Homo sapiens: one gene and its partners. The protein of the gene in region 1 purifies or fractionates together with the protein of each later gene. This does not show direct contact. Each region holds a gene or a part of one and is shown in the gene's direction. Other genes may lie near its edges. The genes, in order: C10orf88, KLHL15, NEDD1 and CLTCL1.

What was found.
Region 2: the proteins of C10orf88 (region 1) and KLHL15 purify together in Homo sapiens (affinity purification with mass spectrometry; 2 studies listed by BioGRID and IntAct, with this or other methods). This does not show direct contact.
Region 3: the proteins of C10orf88 (region 1) and NEDD1 purify together in Homo sapiens (co-immunoprecipitation; 4 studies listed by BioGRID and IntAct, with this or other methods). This does not show direct contact.
Region 4: the proteins of C10orf88 (region 1) and CLTCL1 purify together in Homo sapiens (co-immunoprecipitation; 2 studies listed by BioGRID and IntAct, with this or other methods). This does not show direct contact.

What each region holds. Positions count from the first base shown.
Region 1 is NC_000010.11:122,950,895-122,960,190, reverse strand, and holds the start of C10orf88 (ATPase PAAT), read left to right. Parts: upstream 1-5,963; 5' UTR 5,964-6,012; coding exon 6,013-6,176; intron 6,177-7,158; coding exon 7,159-7,362; intron 7,363-8,164; coding exon 8,165-8,237; intron 8,238-9,296. UniProt on the Homo sapiens protein: ATPase that regulates mitochondrial ABC transporters ABCB7, ABCB8/MITOSUR and ABCB10. Regulates mitochondrial ferric concentration and heme biosynthesis and plays a role in the maintenance of mitochondrial homeostasis and cell survival.
Region 2 is NC_000023.11:24,002,670-24,011,042, reverse strand, and holds part of KLHL15 (kelch-like protein 15), read left to right. Parts: intron 1-4,342; 5' UTR 4,343-4,349; coding exon 4,350-5,054; intron 5,055-8,373. UniProt on the Homo sapiens protein: Substrate-specific adapter for CUL3 E3 ubiquitin-protein ligase complex.
Region 3 is NC_000012.12:96,930,927-96,939,299, forward strand, and holds part of NEDD1 (protein NEDD1), read left to right. Parts: intron 1-4,049; coding exon 4,050-4,279; intron 4,280-5,684; coding exon 5,685-5,886; intron 5,887-6,271; coding exon 6,272-6,467; intron 6,468-8,373. UniProt on the Homo sapiens protein: Required for mitosis progression. Promotes the nucleation of microtubules from the spindle.
Region 4 is NC_000022.11:19,178,553-19,184,672, reverse strand, and holds the end of CLTCL1 (clathrin heavy chain 2), read left to right. Parts: intron 1-1,061; coding exon 1,062-1,283; intron 1,284-3,866; coding exon 3,867-3,942; intron 3,943-4,434; coding exon 4,435-4,454; 3' UTR 4,455-4,474; intron 4,475-4,703; 3' UTR 4,704-5,200; downstream 5,201-6,120. UniProt on the Homo sapiens protein: Clathrin is the major protein of the polyhedral coat of coated pits and vesicles. Two different adapter protein complexes link the clathrin lattice either to the plasma membrane or to the trans-Golgi network.

The sequences.
Region 1 (9,296 bases):
GTCTAAAACATGTTATTTATACCTTAGTAGACATTTAATAAATGTTTGTCCCCTTGGCCGCCAAAAATTCACGGGCCTGTGAAAATGAACTTTCCTATTTTACTCTCCAGTGAGGTATTGTTTACACCCATTTCAACAACTCCTCCTACAAAATACAGGTCCATATAAAATTTATAAGCCAATTGGCTCCTTTTTTTTAAAACTCAACATCAATGTCATTTTCAAGTCACCAGTCTGATCTTCTTATTGAATTTTTATAAAAACGTAATAAAGGTATCCTAAAATGTGAGCCAGATACTCAAACATTACTATATCTTTAACTAATCTGACAATATCTAGTGTTTATTTCCCCAAGATTACTCTGTTCCTGGTATTGTGAGGTTAAAAGCAATTATGAAATCCGCTGAAAGCGGGTAGACCTAGAAGAATCATCAATCTCAGTAACCCTAAGAACCACCAAAATGTCTGAGGAAAGAACAAAGCTACAAGATCCATCTCTGCTAATGGAGGATCTGCATATTATCAATCCCTGCTATTTAGAAACAATGATGAAATAGGTTTCAATTCCTTGGTTTCTGAAGCTTTCAACACAACTTTGGAAAAAAGCAGTTCCCACAGATTTCCACTGGTCTTCCTCACTGTGTTCTTACTTCCTACCACTGTTATATGTTTAAAGTAATTATAAAGATAAATGTATAATTATAAATTATTATAATTTATAAAGTAATTATAAACAATTTAACAGTTTAATAAGAGGGCCTTGTATTTTAAGGCTGTTACTTATTCAATATTCACTTTATATTTGTGTACCAGACAATGCATTAAATGCTGGGGATTCACATGTAACTAAAGACAGCTGCTGCTATTTAAAAAGCTCATACTTGATTTGAAGAGAGAAAGTGAGGAAAGTAAAATGTCCACAATAAGTAAAGAAAAATATAATTAAAAATTAATAAAACTTACATTTGGCTGTTCATATGTTGTGCAGAAGCCCCATTAACCTCACTAGAGAAGGCATCAGGTTCAAGAAGCTAAAGAAGAAACCGAGAGCCAGCAAACGAGACATGGGTTTTATTAGGGGCTTACAAATGGGAGAGTCCAGTGGCGGCAGACTAGACAACATAATTGCACAGCCCAGTGGCAGGGGCTGGGCATGAAAACTACAACTGCCTGCAAAGAGCATGCAGTTTATATAGCATTTTCACTTAACAATCTCCCCATAATGACCTCTACCTGGCAACCTTCATCTAACTCAAAACTCAGGGCCTCAATCTCCTGTGCTGCCCAAGTTCTACGGGAAAGTCTGGGGCATCAGATGTTTATCATAGATAAGAAACGAATCCCCAAGATGGCCATGCCCTGGATTCCCTAGCTCAGAACACACATTCAGGTACATCTGCCATAGAGGGTCATTCTAAGGGTATGCTTAAGTTATTGCTGTCAGGTGTATTTACACTACATCATAGTATGTTGTATACAAAAGCACGGCTATCAAAAGTAAAACTGGTAAAAAGGATTCTGTGGCTTCCCCTTAACCTGCAACCCAACAGTACAACATATTCCTGAAGGGATGTTAATAAACTTACCTCAAAATTCTATCATTCTGCACAAAGATGGATTATTTCTGTAGGAAACGTGCAATATTACAAATGAGTTGACAGCATATTATGCAGAATTTTTGATGAGTTACTTCTTCTGAAGGTGCAAGTGCCATGAATGCATAACGAAACATAACAAATCCTACAGCTGATTTAGCTTGGATGCTATTTTCCTTTGTTAACATAAAAAAAGAGTTTATTCACCCAGACCTTCCTTTAAGACTCTAAAACCCTCTAAGTTATTGCCAAGTTCCCAAGGAAACAGGATAAAACCATTTTTACGAAATGGGTCCATTAAGAAAGTTTATTTTAAGCCAGGTGTCCTGAAGCTGGAGTGGATTTTTCCTTTTTCCCTTTTAAATAAACCATAAAATATAGTTGGTGATATGGTTTGGCTATGTCCCCACCCAAATGTCATCTTGAATTGTAGCTCCCATAATTCCCACTTGTTGTGGGAGGGACCCAGTGGTTATCTTTTCAATCCATTCTTTAAGTACTCATTCCTATTAGTGTACGTTACTACAGACTCAAGAACAATGTTGTTGATTTTTTAATTAGAAAGCTATAAAGGTGTAAAAGGGTTCTGAAACCGAAGTGTTAAGGAACTCTGTTATAAAGCCCACAGTTAGCAGCAAGATATGGTTATGTGATTCCCACCTACCTCACCCTGAAAAACCTTTCTTTGTATCTAGATAGGTATAGAGTATTATTTATTTAATTTTAAATAATTATTTAAAATTGAGCTCCAGAGATCAAACTGACAGAGTGTGTCTCAAGTGTGGCCTTACTATATAAATCACACTGTTGATATAAGCTAGCTAGGTATACAAAGACACTCTTATCAGGCAGGACATTCCAATAGGTTAGCGGTCATCTTCCCAGAGCTGGTCAAGAGCCAACTTCTTTGGAAGCTGCAGGGTTTGAACCTCCCAGACTTCCTGAGTTAACCCTTTATTGCATAACAGTTTTAGACAAGATTGGGCATGTTCAGGGTGGTATGGCCATCGACTATTGCATAAGAGTTTTAGGATAAGAAAGCGTCATACAGGTGATAATCATGGATGCGGGCACAGATTCAGCTCTAGTTCGAGAGCTTCTGCAGCATTTCTACATTTCCTCAGAAAGGTTGTATTGAAAATGATATACAGTCTAACAATGTTTCTAACTAGAACAGAGGTTCTAGTTAAAATGAGGTAGAAAGCAGCTATAAATGAAGTTGGGAGAAAAAGATAGGAAGGTTGTTCTTTTCCACTCTGTTAAAATTGCAGGCCCTGTATTGAGGCAGGGTGAGAAGGAATTCCTGGCAACTGTGGGACCTGCAAGGACCAGAAGAGAGGGAAAGGAGGAGAGAAGGTACAACTCAAGTGGTCCTGAGAAGGAAGTTAAGTTCCTATAACCACCTTGCTGGGAAGTATACTCCTGTGTAAAAGGCAGGGCATATATAGTAAGAACTCAATCTACTTAAGATAGTCAAAACATCTAAACTGTGGCATTACTAAATGAATGTGCTCAAGAAAATTAGTATCCTAAGTTACTTTTTTCTAAAATGTACCTTTCAAATGTGCGTTGGCTCATATTCTGAAAACAGATTTGAAATATGCTCCTAAATATTGAGTTCTTGCATATCATTACTGGTGGGAAATTTCCAACTGTATTAGCCATCTTCACGCTGCTGATAAAGACATACCTGATACTGGGTAATTTATAAAGACAAGGTTTAATGGACTCACAGTTCCATGTGGTTGGTTGGGGAGGCCTCACAATCATGGCAGAAGAGCAAGGCAGAGGAAAGAGAGAATGAGAGCGAAGCGAAAGGCGCTTCCCCTTATAAAACCATCAGATCTCCCAAGACTTATTCACTACCACGAGAACAGTATGGGGGAAACTGCCCCCACCATTCAGTTATCTCCCACGGGGTCCCTCCCACAACAAGTGGGAATTATGGGAGCCACAATTCAAGATGACATTTGGGTGGGGACACAGCCAACCATATCACCAACTATATTTTCTGATTTACTTCAAAGAGAAAAGTAAAGCAAAAAACTCACTTGTAATTCATGACAAGAATAATGTATCATATTAAGATTGAAGTCAGCTTTGAACCATAACCATCCTGGCTTTGGAAAAAAGCTTAAGATTGAATGTACTAATTTTCCTTTTTCTGCTGCTCTTAGTTTATGTGATAAAAGCTGTCACCAACCTATCAATTCCATACAACAAACCTGTACTCAACATAATGTCTATCTCAGCAAGCATGCAGATAGTAGGGAACACAGATATATAAACAGGCAAAGTCTGACATCAAAGGAGAATTATACTACCTAAAAAAGTGGTAATTGTAGCACAGAGGAATTTGTTTAATTCTGTAGCAGGATGAAGTAAGCTTGGTTTCGCATGATAAATAGGATTTTTCCTACTATTGAAAAAAATGGCATTCTAGGTAGAGGAAACTGGAAGGTAGGCAGGGTTCAAAGTACAAAGGACTCTGCATGCTATGCTAAGGAGTGAAGGTGTTGATTCAGTCAGGAACATTGATCACCAGAAGGAGAAGAGGGCAGTGCAAAGACTGAAATGGAAGGAATCAAAATGAAAGCTACTGACAAACTCCTGGAATTGTTCAGATAAAGCTAGTGCTTGGAAACAGAAGAAGCAGAGATAGGAAAATTTTTCTTTAAGAAAATGAAGACTTGGTGGTTTATTGGCTGTATGGAAATAAAGGAAAGGATAGACCATAGGAATCTTTTGTTTTCTGATTCCTGGACATTCAGCTTTATTTAAGGAAGTCAAAATCCAGTTTATAATATTGCTATTGCTCATGAAATTGCAGATTAGTTTCTGAAGAGCCTATTTTCCTTCGGATTGTCCACATGTATTAATGTGGATCAAAGTTAACTTACAACCACAGGAAGCAGGACATACAGGACAAAAATAATGACAAGGACAACTTAGAATGAGTCTGAAATATTAAAAAAATCTTTGCAAACGAGGACTTTACAATTCTGCTATGATAGACCTTTGGTGACATTTCTCTCTTTCAATCTTGGTGAATTCACCTACCATACGTACATTCTGGTGATTACTTATAGAAAAATACATTTGGTCATCATTTTTCTTGCTTTGACACAGGTAAACAGAATGCAAAGTTTATTCTCATTTTTAGCTAGAGGGCACAAGTCCTAGTACATAAACTCAAACGAAAACATAAGCAAAAAGATTAAAGTAATGCGCACTGAGTCATGAACCCAGAATAGACAGCTCTGAAAGAAAATTAGAGTATGGGTGAGCAAAAACGTTATTTCCTAGAGAGGATACCACCTTAAACACAACTTTGGAACTCTAGATTATAGACAAGTGGAATTTCAGAGTTTGCTTTTTTCAAAAGACAGAAAAATAATCTGCACAAGCCTCTACAGGAGGAGGATGAGGGGGCACACTATATACAGTCCCATCCCGTGGGGCATCTAGAAAGTTCCATCTGCTCCCACTGTTCTGCATCCGTAGCCTTAAGTTCCTTCAAGACTGAGTTCATATTCTACTTCAACAGAGTTCTGAGACCCCCCCTTTCCACTCGCTGTTTCCAGTGCCATGAGGAGCGATCTCATGGGGCAGCCCCTGCCTTCGGTGTCTGGGTCTTTCTTGCATTTCAAATTTCTGTCACCTAGAGCGTCCAGCCCTGGATGCCCGGGTTCCTGCGGCCTGAGGGTTGCACATGGGGTCAGGGGGCGTCAGCTGAGACAGCACCCGGCGAAGGCCAGCGTGGCTCAATGCCCATCACAGATGCCCTTCAACCCCAAAACCCCATCATCCGCTTCAGCCCCCCTCTAAAGCGAGAATATGTGTGAGGGAGGCTAGGAGAATTCGAAGTAAAAATAACCCGAATCGGCAGCGCGTCCGCCGCGCTAGCTGCCACAAATGCTGCAGATCCGACGGAATGGAAGCAGAAAAGGCCCTGGCGTCCCCTTGGGAAAGAACGAGGTCAGGAGTCGGTCTTGCACGCAGCGTAGAGCGACGAGACTACACCTACCTGATCACAGACGTTCCACACCAGCTCAGCAACGGTCGTCCACGCCGCTTGCTGTTTCCCCACAGCCAACGTCGAAAACACCCTCGTGCCGGCGCGCAGTGCACCGCGCCTGCGCATAGTCTCCAGCGAAAGAGCAAGGGTCTGCCAGTGCGCATGCTCCGCTCTCGACCTCCTCCCCGCACACTTTGAACGCCGCGCCTGAGGCCAGCTGGCACATGCGCATGCGTGTCTCTGGTGCCTGCTCTCCCCACCAAAGCAAGAAGCGGCGGGTACTTGAAGCGGAGTGAGCCGGAAGTCGCTTTGCCTGCCCATTTCCACGCTGTACCGGCGGAAATTCAAGCACTGGAAGAGAGGTTCCGGGGCTGGGCTGGCCTGACTGAAGGCGGCGGAATGGAGACGCGGACCGAGGACGGGGGCCTCACCCGCCGCCCCACGCTGGCCTCTTCTTGGGATGTTGCAGGCGGGGCCCTGACCCACAGCCTCCTCCTCACCCGGGCCGGTCTCGGCCCCGGTGACTTCGACTGGGAGGAGCTGCTGGCACCGCCTGCTCCAGGGTGCGCCGGGCCGACGGGGACGGGGTCGCTATGCTCGGCAACTGCCGCGCTTCTAGGGGAGCTGTGAGGGGAGGCGAGAGGGTCTGAGCCCGGGATCCGGGAGAGCAGTTGGTACCAGGTCTCTAGTTGGGGAGGGGAGCTGCGAGGTCGTCCGGGGTGGGCGGAGGGGGGTGGGTCCGGCCGGGAAGGGGCCGAGGCTCCTGGGCGTGAGAGGGGGAAGGTGACCCGGACTCGGAATTTCATATAACGTCCCCATCAGGCGTGATAGCCCCTCAGGGCTGCTGTCAAAGTCAGTCCGCCCCTCTACCCTCAAACAAGACACCTCCTGTCCACCAAAACAGGCTGTGTAAAAAGTCCAGCTATAGATGATCGCTGTCGACTTAATTTCGAAAAAGATACACTTTTGTCTTTCATTGTGCCCTGCACCCAGTAGGTGCCCAGTGATTTATGTAATTATCCGAGAGTCAATTGCAGGGGATTGAGTAGAATGTTGATTGAGGAAAAAATAGAGTTTGGGAAAGCCCTGATGTGTGACACCTTCATTTCCGTATGAATTCTGTGTTGAGCGCTTCTTGGATGCTTGGGAAGGTGCTTGGACCTCAAGGGCAAGTGGAAGTGAGTTAGAAGAAAGAAGCCCCGGCCGGGCACGGTGGCTCACACCTGTAATCCCAGCACTTTGGGAGGCCGAGGCGGGCGGATCACGACGTCAGGAGATCAAGACCATCCTGGCTAACACGGCGAAACCCCGTCTCTACGAAAAATACAAAAAATTAGCCGGGCGCGGTGGCGGGTGCCTGTAGTCCCAGCTGCTTGGGAGGCTGAGGCAGGAGAATGGCGTGAACCCGGAAGGCGGAGCGTGCAGTGAGCCGAGATGGAGCCACTGCATTCCAGCCTGGGCGACAGAGCCAGACTCCGTCTCAAAAAAGAAGAGTCATGTTCAGAGAACTATACTGTGTGATGTTTTCACCAATTTTCTTCTCAGTCAGGATCTGGTGATTTTGAAGAGAAACCACAACAACAAAGATGAAAACCCCTGCTTCCTTTACCTGAGGTGTGGCCCTGATGGAGGTGAAGAAATCGCTTCTATTGGCATTTTAAGTTCAGCAAGAAATATGGAAGTGTACTTAGGAGAGGAGTACTGTGGAACCAGTAGGGGCAAGAATGTTTGTACTGTCCTGGATGACAGGTGTGTGACTTGTACACGGGAAAGTGTTCTTCTGAAGTAGTGTTTTGATTTTTCTCACTTTTTGCAATAATTATTGATTCTCTGATATTGATACCATATGTTATGGGAGAGAAGATAAAAATGTGCCAGTAGGCATAGAAGTTTACAACTTTAGAGATCTTAAAAGACAGTGTAGATCAGCCTAGTTATTTTTATAAATGTTGAAATTTAGAACTAACAATCAAGGTGAATTGGTAGGAGGTCATAGCTAGTTAGTGGAAGAGTTTTATTAGAATGAAATTTTGAGAAGTGTGTCTCTTTCCTTAAACTCACAGCAGTCTGTCTTCCGAAAGTTAATTTGGTAGTCAGTCTGGAACTTTGAATACATTTTCTTCTTGGAAGCCTATTAGAAATGGTGGAGGGATCTAAGACTGTGCTACATAAACCTATTTATTAACCTGTAACGCAACTTGTGATTTTTTTTCTTACGAAGATTTTTCTCCAATCTGTCTTTAACACAAAATATGAACTGTTTTATATCCTGCATGTTGGAAACAATTGCTGTGTTTATTGAGCTTTAAAATACAGTCTGGCTACATGGTTGTACATATGTTATATAATGTAATTTTCTCATTGAGCCTAGTAAGTGGTAGATGTAATCATAGGCAGTGTGCTTCAGTTATGGAGCCCAACTCTTCATGCCTCACCAGGAAAACTGAATCTTAGGATTTCAATATTGTTCTGGAAACATTTATTTTTAAGTGTAACTATTAAAAGTGACAATATATGTAAGTAAAAAAAATTAATTCTTTTTTATTTTTAGTGAACATGAAAAGATCATTTTGTATAAAAAAAATCTAAAATTGGAGTCCTCCACACATGCTTGTAAAATAAAGGTAAGTTGTCAGTTGTAAACTAATTTGACAACTAAGTTGTTTTTGTACTCTGTGTATGCTTGTTTTCTTTTGGATTAGTAATACAATTAGTCCAACTTGCTTGCTTGCTTTTTTTTTTCTTTTCAAGACAGTATCTTGCTCTGTTGCCCAGGCTGGAGTGCAGTGGGACAATCATGGCTCACTGCAACGTCATCTCCCAGCTCAAGCTAACTTCCTACCTCAGCCTCCCAAGTAGCTGGGACTACAGGCATACACCACCATGCCTGGCAAATTTTTTAAATTTTTAGTAGAGATGAGGCTCAGAAATACTTAGTAAACATGTACAAAGAAATTACTTTTCTAAAAAATTATCAGCCCTTTTTAACATTGAATTAAGAAATTTTTTTTTTTTTAAATTTTTCACCCGGTGACCAGTGAGTAGACTTTTTCTCTTAAAATTTAACCATGAGCCACGTGCAGTGGTACATGTTTATAATCCCAGTTACTCAGGAGGCTGAGGTGGGAGGATTGCTCAAGCCCAGGAGTTCAAGACCAACCTGGGCAACAGAGTGAAACCCCATCTCACTAAAAAAATAATAAAAATAAAATTTGACTATTTATTAACCTTGGATAATGTATTGTTAATATGGTAGTGCTGTGTATTTTGAAGTGTTGGGAAATTGAGCAAAAAACATTTTTAAAAACTATATAAACTGTGATGGCAAAAACCCATTTATAAAAGAACAAAATTAGAGAAGTTTCAAGCAAGAGAACCAATAAGTTAAAGGGATTGGACTGTTGTCTTCAGCATGAAAAATATTGTTAAGGTAACTGTTAGTTATGTCTTCAGAGTCTAGGGATAAGGTAATGGATTGGAAGTCTTAAGCCCTGAATGCTAATTCAGTTCTGTCCTGACTAGTGGATTAGTCTTGGGCAGATTTTGGACCTATCTCATGGGTAAAATTAGAGAGCTGAAGAAAATTCTTGGATTCTTTTTATCTCTAAACTTCTGTACTTATTATCATTACTTATAGAAGATTGAAACCTATTTTTACAATAAGAAAAAATAAGTGATTTTTA
Region 2 (8,373 bases), on another chromosome or scaffold:
AGAGTGGAGAAGTGGCGTCTTTTTAGTGTGTACATAGATGCCACCTTTTCCTTCTTGGCAACTGAGGGCTCAGCCAAACCCAGAGTACAGAGGGATTCCCAAATGGCACTCATCTCCATACCTAACACAGTACCTGGCACACACAAGGGCTCTTCCTTTTAGTAAATGAAATGGGAAGGCATTGACAGAGTGGTGACACTGGCAGTGACAGCCTCCCTAAAGAAGGAGGTGTAGAGCAAGTGACAGCAGTTGACTGTAGTGTCCGCTGCTTCTCTGGAGGGCTCGGGGTCCATATAAATACCTAACCAGGGGAAGGACAGAACTTGGGAGATTGGGTCCCAGCAGTGTCACTGGTGGAAATTCAGAGCCGTAGATGTTGGCTGCCACATCCTTAGTGCTCTTTTAGGCTAGTGTGGTTTGTAGGTCATGTTCTAGAAAATAGCTGCAACATATGATTCCAAGTCATGAGATATTCTAGAAAGTGCTTAAAAATGGCTGTAGTATCCCAGAGATTTGTCCATATCTGCTGTCCTTAGTTTGGGAACATCTTTGATAGTGCTTCAGTGTTATACCAGCAGGGAATGCCTCACAACTGTTCGGTGGACGAAACTGCCAAGAGGCACTGAAGATTGGCCCAAGATTAAAGGACCAGTTGGCATAGTTTTTGTTTAGCAGGGCAGGGATGGAGGACAGGCAGAGAGTTAAGGGAAATGAAGGCCCTGGTAAGAAAGTGGTTGCTCTGATATGGTAAGGTCTAAGCTGGAGAAGGACAGAGGTTAAGTTAGGAGATGATAGACCAAGTGAAAAGAGAGTAGGAAGGTTAAGTAGGAAGTTGACAGTTAAGATTTCAGATGTAGACCAGTTTTGGATCAGGAACAGGTCCAAGTGGGGTGGGAGTAGGGTTTGCAATGGAATAAGTGGGGAGGTTGTAGGAGTTGAGATGGTCAGGGAGTTTTGACTTACAGTTTTTGGATGGCTGATCTTATGTGAACATTGAAGAGGTGTGAAAGATGACTTAGCCAGGTGTTGAAGTCTTTTTTTTTTTTTTTTTTTGAGATGGAGTCTTGCTCTGTTGCCCAGGCTGGAGTGCAGTGGTGCGATCTTGGCTCACTGCAGCCTCCGTCTCCCAGGTTCCAGCGATTCTCCTGCCTCAGCCTCCCAAGTAGCTGGGATTACATGTGCCAGCCACCACACCCAGCTAATTTTGGTATTTTTAGTAGAGAGGAGGTTTCTCCATGTTGGCCAGGCTGGTCTTGAACTCCTGACCTCAGGTGATACACCCTCCTCAGCCTCCCAAAGTGTTGGAATTACGGGCGTGAGCCACTGAGCCCGGCTTTTTTTTTTTTTTTTTTTTTTGAAAATGGAACCTCGCTCTGTCGCCCAGGCTGGAGTGCAGTGGTGCAGTCTTGGCTCACTGTGACCTCCACCTGCTGGGTTCAGGAGATTTCTCCTGTCTCAGCCTCCGGAGTAGCTAGGACTACAGGCGCCCGCTACCATGTGCGGCTAATTTTTGTATTTGTTTTGTATTTTATTTTATTTATTTTGAGACGGAGTTTCACTCTTGTCGCCCAGGCTGGAGTGCAGTGGTGCAATCTCAGCTCACTGCAACCTCCGCCTCCCGGGTTCAAGTGATTCTCCTGCCTCAGCCTCCCGAGTAGCTGGGATTACAGATGCCCGCCACCATGCCTGGTTAATTTTTATATTTTTAGTAGAGATGGGGTTTCACCATGTTGGCCAGGCTGGTCTCAAACTCCTGACCTTCAGGTGATCCACCCATCTCGGCCTCCCAAAGTGTTGGGATTACAGGCATGAGCCACCACGCCCGGCCTTTAATTTTTGTATTTTTAGTAGAGACAGGGTTTTACCATGTTGCCCAGGCTGGTCTTGAACTCCTGATCTCAAGTGATCCGCCTGCCTCAGCCTCCCAAAGTGCTGGGATTACAGGTGTGAGCCACCATGCCTGGCCCAGGTGTTGAAGTCTTCATCAAATGTTTGAGAGTGATTGATCAGAAGATGTGTATGGAAGTGACAAGGGGTGACAGAAGATGGATTTTTATCTGAGCAAAAGGCCAAGTTATAGAAAAAGAACAATAGAAAGCTAAGAGAAAGAAGACTTGGAAAGTAGGGCTGTAAGCTCTAAAAGTTTTTTTTTTGTTTTGTTTTTTTTTTTTCTAACACGCGTGGGAGTAGAGCTAGAGGTTGGAGGCAGGAGGCCTGGAAGCTGTGACTTTTAGGAAAACTATGTCTCATTTAAATCAGGTCGAGGAGGGAACTTTCTGTGACCAACCTGAGCATGTAGGGGATTTTGTTTACATTGAAGTAAGGTTCCACAGGGCACAGTGGAAAGGTTTGGGAGAGAATTCAGGGATGGAGGATGGGTCATTGGGGAGGAAGCCGGGAGCTGTGTAAGGATGAGAATTAAGAAGATAGATGGTCTGGGGTGGGGGTATGTGAAAAGGAGAAAATTAATTTGCTTCATAAATAACCCAGTAGACTGAATTAGTGGCCAGGCGCAGTGGCTCACGCCTGTAACCCCACCACTTTGGAAGGCCGAGTCAGACGGATCATCTGAGGTCAGGAGTTTTAGACCAGCCTAGCCAACATGGCGAAACCTGTCTTCACTAAAAATACAAAAATTAGCTGGGCGTGTAGCAGGTGCCTGTAGTCCCAGCTACTCGGGAGGCTGAGGCACAAGAATCGCTTGAACCCGGGAGGCGGAGGTTGTAGTGAGCCGAGATTGTGCCACTGCACTCCAGCCTGGATGACAGAGCAAGACTCCGAAAACAAAAAAATAGACTGAATTAGTTTATTCCGCTGTATTTAAGATATCTAATTATAGTTCTCTATTTTACCTTCATTTCTCTGATATGGAAAGATTTGGTTTAATTTCCTTTAAAATTATATATTTGTATTTTTAAATATATAAGCATTACATCATTATTGTTTTTCAAAGTAAGGGTAATGAGGTAAATGAAAAGAAAGCCTCTCCTGAAAACCTACTACCCAGGGACATTATTTTGGTATATATTTCTCCAGACTTTTTCTCATCTAACAAATATATGCGTATTTAGTTTTCGAAGACGTACTCAGTATACTGCAGTCACTTGTTTTTTTTTTCATACAATATCTGATAAATATTCTTTGTAAAAATAAACTGTTGACATCATTTTAAATTGATAATTTATTGTAGGACTGTATCATGTTTTAATAATTTGTTATTGGACTTTTGAATAGTTTCTGATTTTTAAATAATAAGCCTAGATAGAAAAACCTTATATGTACAACTTGCCTATTTATTTGAATATTTCCTTTAGGTAAATTTCTAGGAGTTTTCAGGTATACTTTTTAGTTTCATTTTTGTCCCTTTTCTCATTATTTAGTATTTGGCTGTGAAATCATTTTTATGTTGCTAATTTTGGAACCTGTTCAAAGTATATTTGATGAACAATATGAAATCAATGGAATAGGCATATATTATTTGTAAGATAACAATTTACCATTGTTTGATATATATATATATATATATATATATATTTTTTTTTTTTTTTTTTGGAAATGGGGTCTTGCTGTCTCCCAGGCTGGCATGTAGTGGCATGATCTTGGCTCACTGCAACCTCCGTCTCCCGAGTTCAAGCGATTCTCCTGTCTTGGCCTCCTGAGTAGCTGGGACTATAGGTGCATGCCACCACACCTGGCTACTTTTTGTATTTTTAGTAGAGTTGGAGTTTCATCGTATTGATCAGGCTGGTCTTGAACTCCTGACCTCAGGTGATCCACCCACTTCGGCCTCCCAAAGTGCTGGGATTACAGGTGTGAGCCACCGCGCCCAGCCGACATATATATTTTTAAGAGATAGGGTCGTGCTCTGTTGCCCAGGCTGGAGTGCAGTGGTGCTATCATAGCTCACTGTAGCCTCAAACTCGTGGGCTGAAGGGAATCTCCCACCTCAGCCTCTGAAGAAGCTGGGGCTGCTGGCAATGTGCCACCATGCCCAGCTACTTTTTTTTTTATTGTTATTATTTTGTAGAGACAGGGATTTGCCATCTTGCCTAGGCTGGTCTCCAACTCCTGGGCTCAAGCGATCTTCCTGCCTTGGCCTCCCAAAGTGCTGGGGTTATAGGCATGAACTATTGATGTATCTTTAATAGATTCTTTTCCTTAGATAGGGAAGCCAGAAATATTAGTCTGCAAACCTTTAGATTGTCTTCTCCCAAAGGACTTGTACATTTTGGACTTAGTCAGTAGAATTGAGATAATAGCAAAAATTGTTAAAACTCTAAGTTAATATTTTCTTCTGAATGCATGGAAGTGTTTAACATTGTTGTCTTTGATTTTTTTCCAGGTGATTCATGGCAGGGGACGTGGAAGGATTCTGTTCCTCCATCCACGACACCAGTGTCTCTGCTGGGTTCAGAGCACTGTATGAGGAGGGATTGCTTCTTGATGTCACTCTGGTTATTGAAGATCATCAGTTCCAGGCCCATAAAGCACTCTTGGCCACCCAGAGTGATTACTTCAGAATTATGTTTACTGCAGACATGAGGGAACGAGATCAGGACAAAATTCATTTAAAAGGTCTAACAGCTACCGGTTTCAGCCATGTCCTGCAATTTATGTACTATGGAACTATAGAGCTGAGTATGAATACCGTTCATGAGATTCTTCAGGCTGCCATGTATGTTCAACTTATAGAAGTGGTGAAGTTCTGCTGCTCTTTTCTCTTAGCGAAGATCTGCCTAGAAAATTGTGCAGAAATTATGAGACTCTTAGATGATTTCGGCGTAAACATCGAGGGAGTCAGGGAGAAGTTAGACACCTTTCTGCTAGACAACTTTGTGCCACTCATGTCTAGGCCTGACTTTCTGTCCTATCTGAGCTTTGAGAAGCTCATGTCTTACTTGGATAATGATCATCTGAGCAGGTTCCCAGAGATAGAGCTGTACGAGGCTGTGCAGTCTTGGCTGCGGCATGATAGAAGACGCTGGAGACATACCGATACCATCATTCAGAATATCCGGTTTTGCTTGATGACCCCAACCAGCGTTTTTGAGAAGGTTAGTGCATTTGAAAGCAATAGACAGTACTCATCATTTAGTTAAGGCAGTGTATGTCTTTATAGATAAGATTCACAGACTTAAGAGCCAAGAATGAATAACTTCATTTTGTTATTTCTTATGTTATTCAAGAATGAATAACATAAGAGTACTTTATGTATAAGAAGCCTGATTTGTTGTGCATTTAGGTTTTGTAAAATACATTTTGTGGGTGAAAGATAAACCACGTAGGTAGTAAAACAGTTTTATTTTAAAAGTACTTTTAAAGTTGAAGCATAATTACTTTATGCAAAATATTACATGTTTGCTGTAGCTTTTCTTTTCATTTCATCAATTAAATCGGAACCGAGTCAGGCTAGATCTCTTTTTAAAAATAAATTTAAGTAATACATGCAGAAATTGGCATTGAGAAGAGTTCTGCATGGTATACATTAATAGAGTTTCTTATTCCTCTAAAATATAGCAAGGACGTACAAAATAGCTCTTGAAAACCAATAGGCCCTAATGGTGATTTTCTTCCCTGCTCTTACCTTCTGGTTTTCCCCGTTTTACTGTGAATACTAACTAAATTTGACAATGAAAACATGTTATATGTCTAAAAACATCATTTTGGCATTTCTAAACAAGTAGACTATAACTCTTCTATCTACATTGATCAACCATCCCTGGGCACATTTTACCATGCAAATAGTTCTCTTAAAAATAGTCTTTCTCTGAAACAGCCTTGGCCTTTTTTTGCATGTAAGCATTTTCATTTTTATATCAGAGTTTCACTTGTGATCCTTTCTTGCCCAAAGGTCATAGAGCACTTTTAGTAATTGCTTAACTTAATTGGTTTCTAATCACATGGTTACCTCTGGGGCTCTGTTTACTTCTTGCATCTTCTCTTTTTTCTAGAAAGCACACTGAAAACTTGGTCGGTCACTTTTCATGTTAAATAGTTCCTCAGCTTTAGTTATTAGACCTGGTTATAAAAATACAGTATCTGCAAAGGAGGGTTGTCTACGCCATTTGAAAAATAAACCCATTTGCGCCTTTGAATAACAGCAGCCTGACATATTTTTTTTTCCTCCAAAATGCTGTGAAACTGAGAATTCAGTTTTGTGGATTTTTGTCTTTTATTCTCAATGTATTGATGTGGCAGAAATAATTGAAACTAAATTATATATATGTATGTATGTATTTTTTTTTTTTTTTTTGAGACAGAGTCTCGCTCTGTCGCCCAGGCTAGAGTACAGTGGCGTGATCTTGGCTCGCTGCAAACTCTGCCTCCCAGGTTCAAGCGATTCTCTTGCCTCAGCCTCCCGAGTAGCTGGGATTACAGGCGTCAGCCACTGTGCCTGGCTAATTTTTGTGTTTTAGTAGAGACAGGGTTTCATCATCTTGGCCAGGCTGGTCTCGAACTCCTGACCTCATGATCCACCCGCCTTGGCCTCCCAAAGTGCTGGGATTACAGGCGTGAGCCACCCCACCCAGCCAATAATGTATTTCTTTTATTTTTTGTTTAGTGATAATCAGCCCCACATCAATTATGTAAATCATTTGTCTCTGATGTTTTGATTTTTTTCCTATTGTTTTTATTGCTCTTTTTCCCTGGGGAATCCTGTTTTGTTTTGTTTTTGTTTGTTTTGTTTTGTTTTGAGAGGAGTCTCACTCTGGCCCTGGAGTGCAGTGCTGCGATCTCAGCTCACTGCAGCCTCCACCTCCTGGGTTCCAGCAATTCTCATGCCTCAGCCTCCCGAGTAGCTGGGATTACAGTTACCCACCACCATGCCTGGCTAATTTTTTGTGTGTGGAGATTCTTAATTCTTCCTTTGGTAGTAACAGATTTGAACAGTGACTTAATAGTGTAGGGAAGGGGGCATTCTGCCTCAACCCAAGGAAAAGCCCCCATTCGTTCTAGGGACACAAGTCATGTCCTCTAGCTGTGCTGAAATCTTTGGGTTTATCCTTCTGCAGTATCTATGTAGTCCTCTACTGGATTTTCTCCTTAGGTGAAGATAAGATTGTCTTAACTTTTTTTTTTTTTTTAGTATACTTTTTTCTTTTTTAATATTTAACTTTTTTTTGTAGAGATAGGGTCTCACTGTTGTCCAGGCTGGTCTTGAGCTGGCCTGAAGTGATCCTCGTGCCTCGGCCTCCCAGAGTGCTGGGATTATAGATGTGAGCCACCGTGCCTGGCCAGATTGTCTTAATTTTTGTACTAAGTATTCTGTGGGACCATCATCGAAGAGGCCAAGGCTTCCAAATTTCCTGAGTTCCTTAGAGGCAGCAATACTGTTTATCTGAACACTGCATGTGCACACGAGCACACACACACACACACACACACACACACACATATATTTATGCTAGGTCATGTACTAAGTGCTCTTACCGTACATATAGGTAGCATCTACATGGTTTTTTTTTGTTTTTTTTTTTTTGGTTTTTTTTGAGACGGAGTCTCACTCTGTTGCCCAGGCTGGAGTGCGGTGGCACGATCTAGGCTCACTGCAAGCTCTGCCTCTCAGGTTCACGCCATTCTCCTGCCTCAGCCTCCTGAGTAGCTGGGACTACAGGCACCCGCCACCACGCCCGGCTAATTTTTTTGCATTTTTTTTTTTTAGTAGAGACGGGGTTTCACTGTGTTAGCCAGGATGGTCTTGATCTCCTGACCTCGTGATCCGCCTGCCTCGGCCTCCCAAAATGCTGGGATTACAGGGGTGAGCCACCGCGCCTGGCCATGCATCTACATGTTATCCCCATTTTATAGATAAGGAAACAGGCACAGAAAGGTTAAGGATCTTATTCCAGACCAAGTGGCACTGTCCAGACTGAAAGCCAGGGCAGCTGCTTCCCAATCTGGGACTTCCTGTTACAGCTAATAGAATAGGGAGAAGACCCTAAAGTGCAGGAAGCATGCTGTTAACCTGTGGCCTAGCTTGGGTCATTCTGAAGTTGTTAAAGAGCTATGAAAATTCTAAGCTGTTTGCATTAACAAAACATAGCCTAAGGGCAAGTGTATGTTACAGAGTTGTAAAAATTCTAAGGTGTTTACATGAGCAAAACATAGCCGAAGGGCTAGGAAGGGTGGTTTACGCCTATAATCCCAGCACTTTGGGAATCCTAGGCAGGAGGATTATTTGAGCCCAGGAGTTGGGGAACAGCCTAGGCAAAGTAGGCAAACCTATCTCTACAAAAAATGTAAAAATTATTTGGGTGTGGGGGCACATGCCTGGAGTCCCAGCTACTGGGGAGTTTGAGGTGGGAGGGATTGCTTGAGCCCAGGAGGTCGAGGTTGCAGTGAGCCACGGTCGTGCCACTGCCTTCCAGCTGG
Region 3 (8,373 bases), on another chromosome or scaffold:
AAAGGATTTTAAGCAAAAGACAAATATGTTGAGATTTTTCAGGTTTGAAGATGTTAGTTACTGCAACAGAGTGCAGGATGGATAGTAAGCCACTGAGAATGGAAATGGGATAACTATGTAGTGGCTTAGGTGACAGATGATTTGTGCTTGATGTAAGGCCCTGGGAATCAAGAAGATAGGATGGAGTCAAAGGAACACTATATTTATGGCCATATATATGTGTGTATGTTCATATGTATGTTAAGATGTTTGTATTAATTTCTTACTGCTTTATAGTGCCTAGTAAGAAAATGATGTGAATGTATGTTCTTATCTGTGCAAAGGGAAGGCTTTTCTAAGCATAAATATAAAGAAGTATAGTTATAAGTCACTGGCAACAAGTTTGATAAATATAAATATATAAAAATTTAAAACTTCTGACAAAAAGCAAGGCAAAAATTCACAAAATTTAAATGAAATAGGGAAGGTATTTACAATGTATGAGAGCAGTTGCAATGTAAGAGCAGTTGCAAATTAGTATTTTAAAAATCTTCATAGCCCAATAGAAAATAGGCAAAGTAGAATAATGAGCAGTTTGCAAAAGAAGAAAGACAAATAGTCATTTCATATTTTCAACTGAGAACCTTTAAGGCATGAACATCAATGAATTACAATTTTTTTCATAAATTAACAGTTTTAAAAAAGGATAGTAATCAGAGTACTTGCAAATCAGAAGTAACCCAAATGTCTAACATGATATTATTTAGGTAAATTAGTATACTCATGCATTCATATCTTAAACAGCTATTAAAATCAAGTAGAAAACATTGACATGGCTGTTTATAATGAAGTATGATTCCAGGTTTTCTGTTGATACTCTACTGAATACACAGAAGCATACATACACACAGAAAAATACTTAAAGGATACCCCCTCAAAATGTCAACCACTTTTTCTCTGGGTAGTGGGATTATGGATGGTTTTTCTTCTTTGTGATAAAAAAAATTTTTTTCTATTAAATAATTATCTTAGTAGAGACTGAAAAACTATAACCTATGGTCTAGCCAACTTATTTTTGTAAAGTTTATTGGAACACAGCCATGCTTTTCATCTATATATTGTCTGTAACTACTTCTAAATAAGTTTTTGAAACCTTCCCCCCACCTTTAGTGAGTGGTATGTTTTTTATATTTAGAAACAATCTCCCTCCTCCACAAACATGCAACATTCTTACACAATAATGTGGTATAAGAAAAAATAGCATTGCTGCTTATACTGCCGGGATTTTTTCCCCCCCATAAGCTTCTTGATTTAATTCTTTTCTTATAAATAATTTAGTCTGGAACAAGATAGGGAGTTAATGACTTAAGTGCTGCTGATACTGAAATAAGTTAATATTTATTTTAAATATAATTTGGAGGCCAGGTGCGGTGGCTCACACCTGTAATCCCAGCACTTTGGGAAGCTGAGGCAGGTGGAGTGCTTGAGTCCAGGAGTTTGAGACCAGCCTGGGCAAAATGGCAAAATCCTGTCTCTTAAAAAAAAAAAAAAAAAAAAAATATATATATATATATATATATATAAAATGCACACACACAAGTAAATATATTTATATATATAAATTATATATATATAATTTAGTAAATCAGTGTTTTGTTTATCCAGGATTCTTAGCTAATATCTTAATGATATTCTAAAGAGAAGATTTAACAGATATAGAAAGTTAAGAAATGAAATTCTGTTAGTATTATCACAGAAATAATTGGAGACATTTAAAGAATTCAATGTGGTTACTTAAGGGTCTTTTAAAAAATATGTAAAAGATGGTTGAATGGTGGGTACATAAGCAATGATGAGCAAGTAAGTTATGAACTTCTGGAAATGGTGATGGCTACTGTGTACCTGATTCTGTACAGAAATGCTATTTAATCCTCAAAATAATTGTGTCAGGAAAACAAGAGTGTTTTCTATTATGTAGATGAGAACGCTGAGTTTTGGAGAGTTTAAGTAATTCACCTAAATCATACAGAGGTTTGCTGAGCGTCCACTGAACTTAGGTTTATCTGAAGGGAACATTTATCATTATCTTTAGCCTTTTTTTTTTTTTTTTTAAATAGTCTGCCATGTAGGTCCCAAGAACTTGAAGTAAGATACAGAATTTAGGTTTTGTCTTGATCAAGAATACATTTTTAACTGGTTATCAAGTTGTGTTAAAGACAGTGGTAAGCTCCTTGTTGTTTGATAGATGCAAACAGATTCTGGATAACCATGTTTTAAGGATGTTGTAGGAAAATTCCTGCTGTTGCTAAGAGGTTAAACTTTATGAACTTCGAGAATCTACCAGGTCTGTGATTTTTATGGTGTTTTTAAAAATTCTACTTGTGTATTTAGTCTAAATTTAGATCATGTGAAGGACGATAACTATATGAACTCCTAAAGTGCTGTAGAAATCTTTTTAGAAATCATGTTTTGCCTTATATTTTGATATGTTGTGTATGACTCTGTAATCATTAACATAATGCACTAAGTAGGTCTGTGTCTTTTATATAGTTAACATTCATGTAGTTTATTTTTTCTTGAATATGGACCAGAGAAAAGATTTGACTATTCAAGTGGATATACTTTTTCCCAACAAAAATAAAAATTATATAAACCAACATTTTCTCTTTGTACTTTAGCCATATGAAAATGGGCAAATTTAATGGGTTAACATATTAATTGTCTTAACTTAGGTGCCAGGTGACTAATAACTCCTTTTTGTTTTTTTTTCTTAGCATTTGGTTTCTGTATTTCCTAGACATTTTTTGTTGTTGTTGAGAGCTAATATATATTATTTGAGACATTTTAGAATTAAGTAGAATATAAATTCATAGGGAAAAATTAGCTTAAATGTAAAGTACTTAATTTTCCGCCTAGTAAATGACAACATCAATACAAGTTTGACAGTAACATTTTAGTAAAAAAGAAAAGTAGATAAAATTCAGTTAGTTTTAGTCTAAGATCAGTTTATTCAAACTAGATCTTTGTTTATTCTGGTCCATGGAAGCTAGGAAGAGAGAATATCTCCACTACCTGCAGGGATTTGTGTTTAGAGAAAGGCCAGCATTGCCCTCAGGCTAATGGTTTTGAAACAATGGATATAGTCCATCCCCAGTCTAGAGTGTTGCCAGTTTTTCCTTTGTGGTTTAATTTTTTTTTAAATTATGCTTCAGGTGTTGAATTGTCAGTGCATCAGATGCTCAGATTCAAACAAATGTATCAAAATATCTAAAATATAGAAAACAAATACAAAATATTATTGCTTTTTTTTTTTCTCCCAGTATTCCCTTATACTTGTTGATTTGACTGTGACAAGGCCTTTTATATATGGTGGATGTTCTAACCCTGATGAATTAATGTAGATAATCTCAATGTATTATATTTTTCCTCTGAAAGGAGAAGATTGAGGTAGCTATACTCCAAGATAATAAAATGACAAATATTAATAGGCTATTGATTGGTATGTTTCAGGTATTGGTATGTCATCTTATGGTCCACTGAATGACACCGTGGTTGTCATGATTGAAATTTGTTACCCTTTCTTTTCTTTTCTTTTCTTTTTTTTTTTTAAGACAGAGTTGGGTTTTTTTGTTTTGTTTTGTTTTGTTTTTAAGACAGAGTCTCACTCTGTCGCCCAGGCTGGAGTACAATAGTGTGATCTTGGCTCACTGCAGCCTCCACCTCCTAGGTTCAAGTGGTTCTCTTGCCTCAGCCTCCCAAGTAGCTGTAATTACAGGCGCCTGCCACCATGCCCAGCTAATTTTTGTATTTTTAATAAAGATGGGGTTTCACTAGGTTGGGCAGGCTGGTCTTGAACGCCTGACCTCAGATGATCCACCTGCCTCGGCCTCCCAAAGTGCTGGGATTACAGGCGTGAGCCACCACGTCTGGCTGAAACCTGTCACTCTTACACATCAGAGAAATCCTAAACCCCATGTGAATAGTGTGGTTGGCCATAATTTATATGGCTTATATCAAATGTCCTTATGAATGCTTATAATTACATAAAATTTATTCTTTCATTTTTATAGTCTGTTCGGCACTTGAAGTACTCCTTGTTTAAGAAATCACTACTGGGCAGTGTTTCGGATAATGGAATAGTAACTCTCTGGGATGTAAATAGTCAGAGTCCATACCATAACTTTGACAGTGTACACAAAGCTCCAGCGTCAGGCATCTGTTTTTCTCCTGTCAATGAATTGCTCTTTGTAACCATAGGCTTGGATAAAAGAATCATCCTCTATGACACTTCAAGTAAGAAGTAAGTGTGACATGCTTATTTCTTAATTTAGTAACAAATAGCTATTATTCCATTAACAGGCATATTTGTGATTTATATAGACCTCTGATTAGTGTCCAGGGGTCCTAAAGTTTGTACAGTTGATGGATCTAGTAAGAAAGAATTTTCTTCTTATGCAGAAAGAAATAGATGGGTTGCAGGTAGTATTTAGGGTACTTCTGAAACATGAACATAGAGAGATGACATCTTAATGATTTCACATTTTAATTTTAGCATCTTTTCCACAATATGATAAAATGCATATGTTTTTAACCCAAATGATTAATTTGCTTTAAAACTGATTAATTATCTAGAGGAAGGTTTAGAAACGATTGACATTTTGGGCTGGGTAATTCTTTGTTGTGAGGGGCTGTCCTGGGTATTGTAGGATATTCATCAGCATCCCTGGCCTCTGCTTACTAAATACCAATGGCCTAAATTGTGTCCAGACATTGTCAGATGTCCCCTGGTAGTAACCAGGGACAACCTGGGAGCACCCACTTGAGAAATACTGATTATGTACTGGTGTACATAATCCTCTAAGCATTTGGGCCCACTGTACCCTCTTCTTGTTAAATTTAGGTATGCTTAGTTAGCTAAAAAACAAAAACAAAAACAAAAGAATGCAAGAGTGATACAGTTGTATTCAAGATGCTTACCACTGTCTGTAGATCATGTGGAGTATGAATGTTACTACAAGGGAAGGTCCCACTGTCAGCCTTTATTATGATGCTAGAATTTTTACTGTTAGGACTTATTTGCTGTCTTCTTTTATGGAACAATTTACTGAGAGCCCAGTAAGCCATTCTTCTTTTCTACTATACACACCAGTAAAGAGCTCAGCTTCAGCAGATCACCATCCGTATTTCTTTATTAGCTTCCTAAGGATCAAGCATGTGAACTGTGTTCCTCTTAGCTTTTTGGCCAAGACTGTACAACTAAGAACAAAGTAACAGCTGCTCCCCTGTGAAAGGTCATAGTCCTCATGAGGCCTAAGCAGGTCAATAAATGGAAAGTGGATACTTAGGCCCTCCTCAACCATGAGGCCAGAGCCCCTGTTTGTGGCGTAATAGACAGTTCTGCTACATTCACTGTCAGAGTAATAATTAAAGAAATAGGTGCTGCTTCTATAAGATGCAGAATGTACCTATTGGAAGTGAATAGAAAAGTAAGATGGAATGTTTAGCAGTTCTCTATATGCCATTTTATTAGAAATGTCTCTAAGTCAAATTCTGAAATTATGCTTTAAACAAATATTTGGGATATGTGTGCTCTTTGACCAGTTTGAAGTGTTAATAACTCTGGTTTTGGTATATAGTTACTTATATAAGCTAATATACCTGTACACACTAACATTTCTACACATACTTTGTTCTCCTTTCCAAAGGCTAGTGAAAACTTTAGTGGCTGACACTCCTCTAACTGCGGTAGATTTCATGCCTGATGGAGCCACTTTGGCTATTGGATCTTCCCGGGGGAAAATATATCAATATGATTTAAGAATGTTGAAATCACCAGTTAAGACCATCAGTGCTCACAAGACATCTGTGCAGTGTATAGCATTTCAGTACTCCACTGTTCTTACTAAGGTGAGACATTTTCTTTTCAGCATTTTTTATTTTATTAAATAAATCTAACTCAGAATATGGAAATTATATGTGGTCAATTAAACAGTATAGTTTTGTTTCATAATTACATAATGATTTTACATGTAATGTATAATAATTTTAGTACAAAGCCATTTGATATTTAGTTTTAAAACTTTTTTTCTTTTTTTTTTCTCCTTATATATCTCTCTTTTTAAAAGTATTTTAAAAGACATTTTAATTTAGAGGGAAACTCAGGTCTGCCAGCAAGCTTAAGATTTGCAAGGAAAAAAATATATTTTTTAATCTAACAGGGAATTTATAAAATATTAATGTATAGTATGAAACATTAGTAACCTGAGCTTTTAAATATTCCATTACATTTCAGTCAAGTTTAAATAAAGGCTGTTCAAATAAGCCCACAACAGTGAACAAACGAAGTGTTAATGTGAATGCTGCTAGTGGAGGAGTTCAGAATTCCGGAATTGTCAGAGAAGCACCTGCCACGTCCATTGCCACAGTTCTACCACAACCTATGACATCAGCTATGGGGAAAGGAACAGTTGCTGTTCAAGAAAAAGCAGGTAAATGTTGCTTATATATTGTTGGAGGGTTGGTTTGTTTTTTTTTTGTTTTTTTGTTTTTGGCTTGCATATAATTAGCACATTCTTCAAGAACATAGAACTCAAATTTATTTGAGTACTTAGGTAAAATTAGTAGAAGTGAAAATCATTGAAGAAGTGAAAATAGTAACTTTGGCTATTAATTTCAAAAATGATAAAAGGCCCTTATTGTTTAGCTAAACTTCTCTTGTGAGAAATATTGTCTTAAAAATGGAAGGAGGCTAACTCAGAAATTATTCATCCTTAATACTACTAAAGACTGAATGGCTTTTCATTGTGTCTTCAGATTAACCAGTAGAAAATATGAAACTTTGACACTGTCTTATGATTTGATCTCATTAAATAAAAATAAATGAGAATGTTGCAATTTCTAATGATTTCTTCTTCTCTCATGTAATTGGCGAAACAGTTCTGAAACAGGATTCATTTAGACTTTATTGATGTGTTATATGATAAGCTTTCTCTTATTGTAGAAAATATTTCTTGCTCACAATAAAAAAATATTCTGTAAATTCCTGAAAACCTTTTCATTTTTATTTTAAGAAGTTATGCTATACTGTCAACGTGCAACAAATACTTTAGAAAGTCTACATGGTATACTAGTATGTTTCTGAAATATTGTGCTTAGTAGAAATACATATATCCATGTCTTTTAAATTTTTCAGGATAAATACTTGGGCAAAAATATTTATTGGTGTTTTTTTTTAGCATGATTTTGCTATTTCCAAGTAGAAGCAAAACTTTAATTTGTTGATCTTGATAGTGTGGAGTAGTATTTTAAAGTAAGTATATTCACTATAAATTTCCTGTGAATATCTGTATCATCCTTATATAAGAGCCATTATATATTAGGAAAATAATTAAGTTCTTATTTAGGAACTCCTGGAGACAAAGACAACTGATATCTACTTAAGGAAGAAATTATTTTTGAAATATAACTTTGAGTAATGTCTGCCAACATGTTGAATTAACTATATTATGAAAATTATCTTTTTTCAAAATTTTCAAAAATTAAACAAAATAAAGATTCTCTCATTCACTGTAAACTCTCTGAAGTCTCTCCATTATTCATTTAGTTTTATAGTAAGAAGGCTCTTGTTTAACAAAGACAGCATTAATTTGCAAATCAAAGGCTTGGATCTTTCAGGGTCATGGATTAACGATAACTCTTGGTAGATTCCCAACATTTCTGGCAAAGTGAGTGCTCTGCCCCCACAAAATTAACAATGTTTGTGTATTAATTGTATTTTGAAATGATTGTCATCTTACAGAAAAGTTTTAAGAATAGTACAGATAACTCCTGAGCATTACCCTTTGGCAGATGCACTTTATAAATTTTGCCACATTTGCTTCATCATTCTCTTTCTCTTCCTCTCTCTGTCTCTCATTCTCTCTCTCTCTCTCACACACACACACATTTTTCTTTGCCTCTGAAACATTGAGAATAGTAGACTCAGTCTCAGATCTGTCACTTCCGGCCAGGATGCTTTTAGGCAATTCTCTTAACCTTTCTGGGTCTCATTTTTTTCCTGTACACATTTAAGATGACATTTAACTGTTAGGGTTATTGTGAAAATCAGATAAAATGTATTGGAAGTACCTGGCACATGGTAGGCACTCAGTACACTATGGTGTTGATACTATCATTGTGGTCATCATGATCATCACTATTATTATTTTAAGCTTTGTATAAAATTAAAGTTCAGAAAAAAATTCTGTTGCTTCTATTGAAGTTGTCCTGATTCAGTTATTTCAAAGAACTTCTCTAAACTTGTTATTGGTACTTAGTTTTAGAAGGAAATCACCATTTAAGAAGAAAAGAATAAGACTTTAGCGCTGTTTTCAAATGATACCAAACTTCTGTTTC
Region 4 (6,120 bases), on another chromosome or scaffold:
AAGTCAGCAAGGGTAGGCTGGGCCGGTGGAGGGCACGGCAGGGAGACAGATGAGCGGGCGTCACAGGTCCTCAAAGCGGAGACCCAAAGGCACCTGGAGCTCTCACCTGAGGGTCAGAATCCTGGTGCCTTTGTAGGAACAGTGTGGGTCAGGAGGCAGCGATCGATGAGCAGCATGCCAGCGGGGGAGACTTCTTTCCGGAGCCAGCTCAGCACATCGGGTCCATGCAGATGTGGGCACTGGGCGTCCTCAGGGGTCTCCCAAACGGAACTCAGAGGTGTGTGCTGCAGGCGATGGCAGGCATGCAGAGCTGGGACCGCCACAGGGTATCCCTGGAGAGCACAGGTCACAGTCAGTGGATCATGGCCAACTCCAGGTGGAGTGGCCCTGGGCAAGTGACTACATCTGGGTCTCAGGTTCCTGGTCTCTGAATGGGGTACTAATAGCCCCTGCCATAGAAGGAATCAGGTGATCCAGTGCCTGCTGTGGAGCTAGAAAATAGAGAATGGCCACAGAAAGTGCAGGCTTCTTCAGGACTGGTCAGGTGCAGGTGTTATTTTGTCAATGATATTGTCTTAGACAAATACATTTGCAAGGATGAAAATAGCAGTTAGGGGTTTTTGAGCCACTTGAAAGAAAAACACATTGCTGTTTCTAGAGCAGTAGCCGTACCCCTCCTAACTGCTCCCCTGGTGTCACACGCTCCATGGACCTGAGTGCAGCACCTCTGCAGCAGCCCCACAACCCCCAAACTCCCATCAGTGCCTTCCTCAGAGCAGCCTGTGCACGCCCTCTGCCCTCGGGGCTAGAGTTCCTGTCTCCCAGGGCACCTGCGCCTCCGTGAGCCACCTGTCCCCTCCAGAGCCTCCGGAGGTGGCATCTCCGTTTCACCAGTGGGCAGCAGGGCATAGGGAATGGCCCAGCCATGGGTCCAGGCTTGCTCCACAGCGCAGGAAGTCCTTGGTGGAGTCTAGTGCCACTCCCTGCCCTCCGGCCCAGCTGCTGCAGGCACAAAGCCTCTGCCTGCAGGATGCCCAAGCAAGCATTTGCCTTGGCTGCAGGATGCCATGCAGCATGCTGCAGAGTCGCGGGATGCTGAGCTGGCCCAGAAGTTGCTGCAGTGGTTCCTGGAGGAAGGCAAGAGGGAGTGCTTCGCAGCTTGTCTCTTCACCTGCTATGACCTGCTTCGCCCAGACATGGTGCTTGAGCTGGCCTGGAGGCACAACCTCGTGGACTTGGCCATGCCCTACTTCATCCAGGTGATGAGGGAGTACCTGAGCAAGGTAGGTGCCGGGCCGGCTGCAGCTCCCCGGCCCCTGTGTGGCATGACCCAACCCTGGCAGTGACTCTGGCCGCAGGTCTTAAGGGTGGGCCCCTTTGAGGCCAACCCAGATTCCCCAGCCAGCCCTGGCTGCCTTCAGGAGTGGCTGCTTTCCTTCATGCTGAAGTGGTTTTCTGCCCAACGTTAAGCCCCTCCAGAAAATCATCATGGGGAGTGCCCACTGGCAGCAGCCCTCCTGTAGACTCTGGCTGGGCAGCTGTCCCAATGTGCACACTGCTAGGAGCACAACAGGCGTGCTCATCCCCAGCCCTGGACTTCAACAAGGTGACAGTGAGGTGGCTGGCAATCCCAGCTCCCTGAGGAGCTCCCAGTGGCGTCTGGGGGTGCAGCTGTTAGCATACGGTTGGTGGTAGCTGCCTTTTGCTGAACACATAGTAGGAGTATTCACAGATCCACTGAATCCTTCTAACAGCTATAGGGAGGATGACTCTCTGCCTCATCGAAGTGACAGTACTTGATTGTAAAACTCTCCCTGGGTGTTGAAGTCCTAGGAGTCCCTGCTGGGATCTAGCTTTAGCCACTGTCCAGAGACCTGTGTCAGCAGTGTCATCTGGTACAGTTTGTTGTTTCTAACACTGGAAAAGCTACTTCCAGTAGCATCTACTTGCCTATCTAACCTCCTTCAAGCCAGATGGAGAGCCTCGGAAGGCACTCATGCTGAAGCATCACTCAGTGGAGCGAGGGAAGGGAGGGGCCTCCCAGGTGAGTGGGAGGTAGGAAGGAAACAGGAAGGCGGGCTCATGCTGCCAGCTTTAGCCTGGAGGGCTGCCTGCCGCCTGCAGAGCCTCCAGGGGGCTGCCCAGCCCCTGATAAAGGCCATCCCAGAGTCCATTCAAGGCCGTTGCCCTCCTGTAGGACAGTGTGACCCCATCCCATCTGCATAGCATGCCTGAGTGAGACTCCCTGATGACTCTCAAGGGTTGGGGAGGAAGGGACAGCCCTGGCTACGTGGCCTGAGATTCGTGGGCTGCCAGGGGACATGGACTGGTTGGATTGACAAGGGCCCTGGTTCCCCCACCACAGTGGATGGCAACTCCCTACAGGCGGCACGTGTGGTATGTGGTTTGTGGTATGCAGTGTGTGGTGTGCGGTGTCTGGTGCGTGCCTGTGGAAGCTGCTGTCACCATGATGAGCAGGTTTTCCCATCCCTCGGGTGTCTTTCCTGAAAGTAGTCTGTGTTCTGAGAACCAGCACAAGGAAAGAAAGTGCTTGAATCTCTTCCTGGCAGTAGAGGCCCGTGGGTTAGTGTCAGAGGAACTCAGGCTCACCAGGCCCTAGGGAGTGTCATTGCTGTGGGGGTCAAAGTGCTTGTGGGGATCCCCCAGGACTTTGAGGCGCACATTCCCTTTCTGTTGCGGATGATGGAGTTAGCAGCCACTATCACGTTGGTCCACACTGTGGCTGCACAGCCTTGGCCCAGGGTTCCCAGACTCCACTGGCCCTGGGAGGTGGTGGCTGCTGGAGCACCTTCTCTGCTGCCACCCACCTATTCCTGCTGGGGCAGATGAGACGCCTGTCATGGGGAGAGTTCAAGGAGAGGAGGGGGCTGGCAAGGGGTTTCCCAGTCAGTGGCATGGGGGTGTGAGCTGATTGTCAGCTTGAGCTGGTGCTCAGCTGACACCACACAGCAGTGCTGGGAGAATGAGGGCGCGGACAAGAAGCACAGTCCTTTCCTGGTGGACAGCTGGGCCTGGGGCCTCGTGGCTCATCTGGGAAGCTTGAGGGCCATCCCTCTGAGACGCCCCCAGCGCTCTCCCATTGTAGGGAGGGTACAGGCCTAGCTCAGCCCTCACCCTAGGTGTCAGCAAGTGTGCCCCCTGCTTCCTCCTCATTTCTCAGCCCCCCCCAGACCCCAGCTCATGGGGGGCACATTCTTATTTCTCTTTCTTACTCAGTGTGTTTGTGAGGGGATCCTAGCTGCACAGTTGCTGCCGCCCCTCTAGTGCAGTGCTGCCGCCTCGCTCTCTGGCAGTGGGTGGGGTCAGTGCCTGGTGAAGCCTCAGGGAAGAGTGAGGAGGCAGTTTGTCCTCAGTGCTTCTCAGGTGAAGTGTCTAGGTGCCAGGTGACTTGTCTCTGAGAGCCACATGATCTCTCTGCTGGTTTGGAGGGGCGGGCAAACTAGACTGGCCAGAGCCAGAAGCAGACAGTGTTCCCTGCACATGGCCCCAGCCCTGCAGGTCGGTAAGTGGCAGTGTCCCTGTATCCAGAGGAGGACTTGGCCCCCCATAAGCAGGCCACATGCACAGCCTGTAACAACTGACTGCCCCAGTGCCCACTGGGAAGCTCTGGGGGCCCCACCTGGCGTTCCATCTCAGCCCAGCTACCGAGGCTTCACCTCTCCATGCCTTGCTGCATTCTAAAAGTGCATGGGGTGTGGGCTGAGCCACTCCACATCTGCCCATGTGCACCTCCTCCACTGTCATTCTCCTGGAGGCCCTGTGTCCTGACCTTCCACTCCACTTTCACCTAGAGGCCGGACTGCACTCTGTCAAGCGGGTGCTCACGTGCTTTTGCCTCCTTGCAGGTGGACAAACTGGATGCCTTGGAGAGTCTGCGCAAGCAAGAGGAGCATGTGACAGAGCCTGCCCCTCTCGTGTTTGGTAGGTGGCACCTGTAGCCCCCAACCCCCTGGGGAGGGAGCAGGGAGGGAGTCAAAGTCCCACTGCCCTTACCTGGCTGGGCTTTGGATGGGGATGGGAATAGATGGGTGGGGGCTGGAAGGATCCCAGTGGCTACTGGGTGTGGAGAAGTGTACGCCCAGGAATGTTGGCACGGCCGCTGTCCTCCCTGCTGTAAGGATGCCTGCCTTCTGATAGGGGTGCCTGCCTAGCTGTGAACTACTGCTGTGTCCTGCTGGGCCTGGCCCCTGGACAGCAAGGCTGCTGCTGGTGTGTGCTGGGAGGGGCTTTGCACCTGAGAACCTGCCCAGGGCAGCCTGGCTGTCGAGCAGACTGGAGAGGCTGTGGGGTGCTTGGACACTGTGGGGCAAACACAGGCCTGAGGGTGTGGTGTGAGTGTGCAGCACGCCGGCGGGTCTCCAGCGTCCGGCTGAGTGTGTCCTTCCACCATTAATGTCATTCTGGTTTTTTTAGATTTTGATGGGCATGAATGAGACCCAGCTGATTGCACTAAGTAAGTGTCCCATTTGGAGACTAGCTTATCCTCTAGCCAGGCCAGGTTCTCTGGCTGACCCCACGCTCCTTGCCTCTGGATGCCTGCTCTCTTGGGGCCTCAGCGTCTGGGTGGTAAGGGCTGGTCCTATAGACCCTGCTCCCTGGGCCCCGGGCTACTCAGGGGCAGCCAGGAGAGGACCCCCATGGGCAGGAAGAGCTCTGCTCATTGTGGGCTTCCCCCTCTGCAGGCCCTGCCGTGGGCCCAGCCCCTGCCAGCTTCCCCTATGGATATGCCTCTGCTCCCAACTTCGCCAGCCTCCAATGTACAACTTCCGCGTGTAGTGGGCGTTGTCACCACCCACCCTACCTGCAGAGTTACTAACTTCTCCAAGGAGCATGTCACTCCAGCAGCACAGGGGACGCAATGGGAGGCAGGGACACCTGGACAATATTTATTTTTGCTGAAACCCAATGACGGCAACCTCTGAGCCATCCCAGAGCCTGGGGAGGCCAGGGTAGAGGCTGACGGCGCAAGACCAGCTTTAGCCGACAACAGAGACTGGACTGTGGGCCCTCCTGCTGGAGCCAGGCCTTCCTCCTGGGCGCCTCCGACTGGCTGGAGCTGCCCCCTCCAGGCCAGTTTGAAGACTACATGAACACGTCTTGTTTGGAGGTACCGGACCTCATAAAAGGACTCTCAGCCTCTTGGCAATCATAAATATTAAAGTCGGTTTATCCAGGCAAAGGTGCTCTGCTTGGTGCTGGTATGGGTAGGAGGGACGGGCCAGTTTCCTAGGCCCCGCAGTCCATTAAAGATTTGCTGGGTCCTCTTTGGGGTGTGGGACCTCCGTTGCCCAGACAAGCTGCCTAGGAGAATACAGCCGCTTGCATTTGTGGTCTTTCCTGACCTTGTTCGCTGAGCGCAGAAACTACAACCGGGAAAGGTGTGGGTGGGAACCGGCAGGTGAGGCCCGGCCCGTGGCTGCTGCGGGAGGGGGGCCCGGCGGCGTAGCCCCTTCTCACCGGCCTCCCGCCTCCCGCCTCCAGGTTTGAAACGTTAGAGTTCCTCTGGGACTGGGCTAGCCCCACGTGTTTTCGGGGAGGGTGTGCCCCTGGCCTCCGGGATCCCTGGGGATCCCGCCGCTCTCGACAGTCGCGCAGACCCGAGGCCCGCTATCCCGCGGCGCGGCACACAGTGCACCTTGACCCACTGCTCGGAGCTGGGCCACGGCTCCGCCTCCCGCAGCCCCGCCCCCGTCCCGCCGCTCGCGGTCGCCCAGGGACTCGGCCTCGGCCATTGGCTGCGCTTTGGCCCCGCCCCTACGCCTGCCTCGGCGCGCCCCGCCCAGGCCTCAGTTTCCCGGCCCGCACGGGGCGGGCTGGGGGCGGGGCCTGGCTCGGACCACGCGGGGCGGGACCTGGAGCTGACGCGGCCGCCCCGCCCCTGGGACCATAACCGGCCGCCGCCGCCACCGCGGACCGAGCGCGGAGTTCTGGAGTCTCGGACCCGAAGCCGCCACAGGGCGCCCCGCCTCCCGCCCGCCATGCCCGCGCCCCGCGCCCCGCGCGCTCTGGCGGCCGCCGCGCCCGCGTCCGGGAAGGCCAAGCTGACGCACCCGGGGAAGGCGATCCTGGCAGGTGGGCCCCTCCGGGACGCGGACCCCT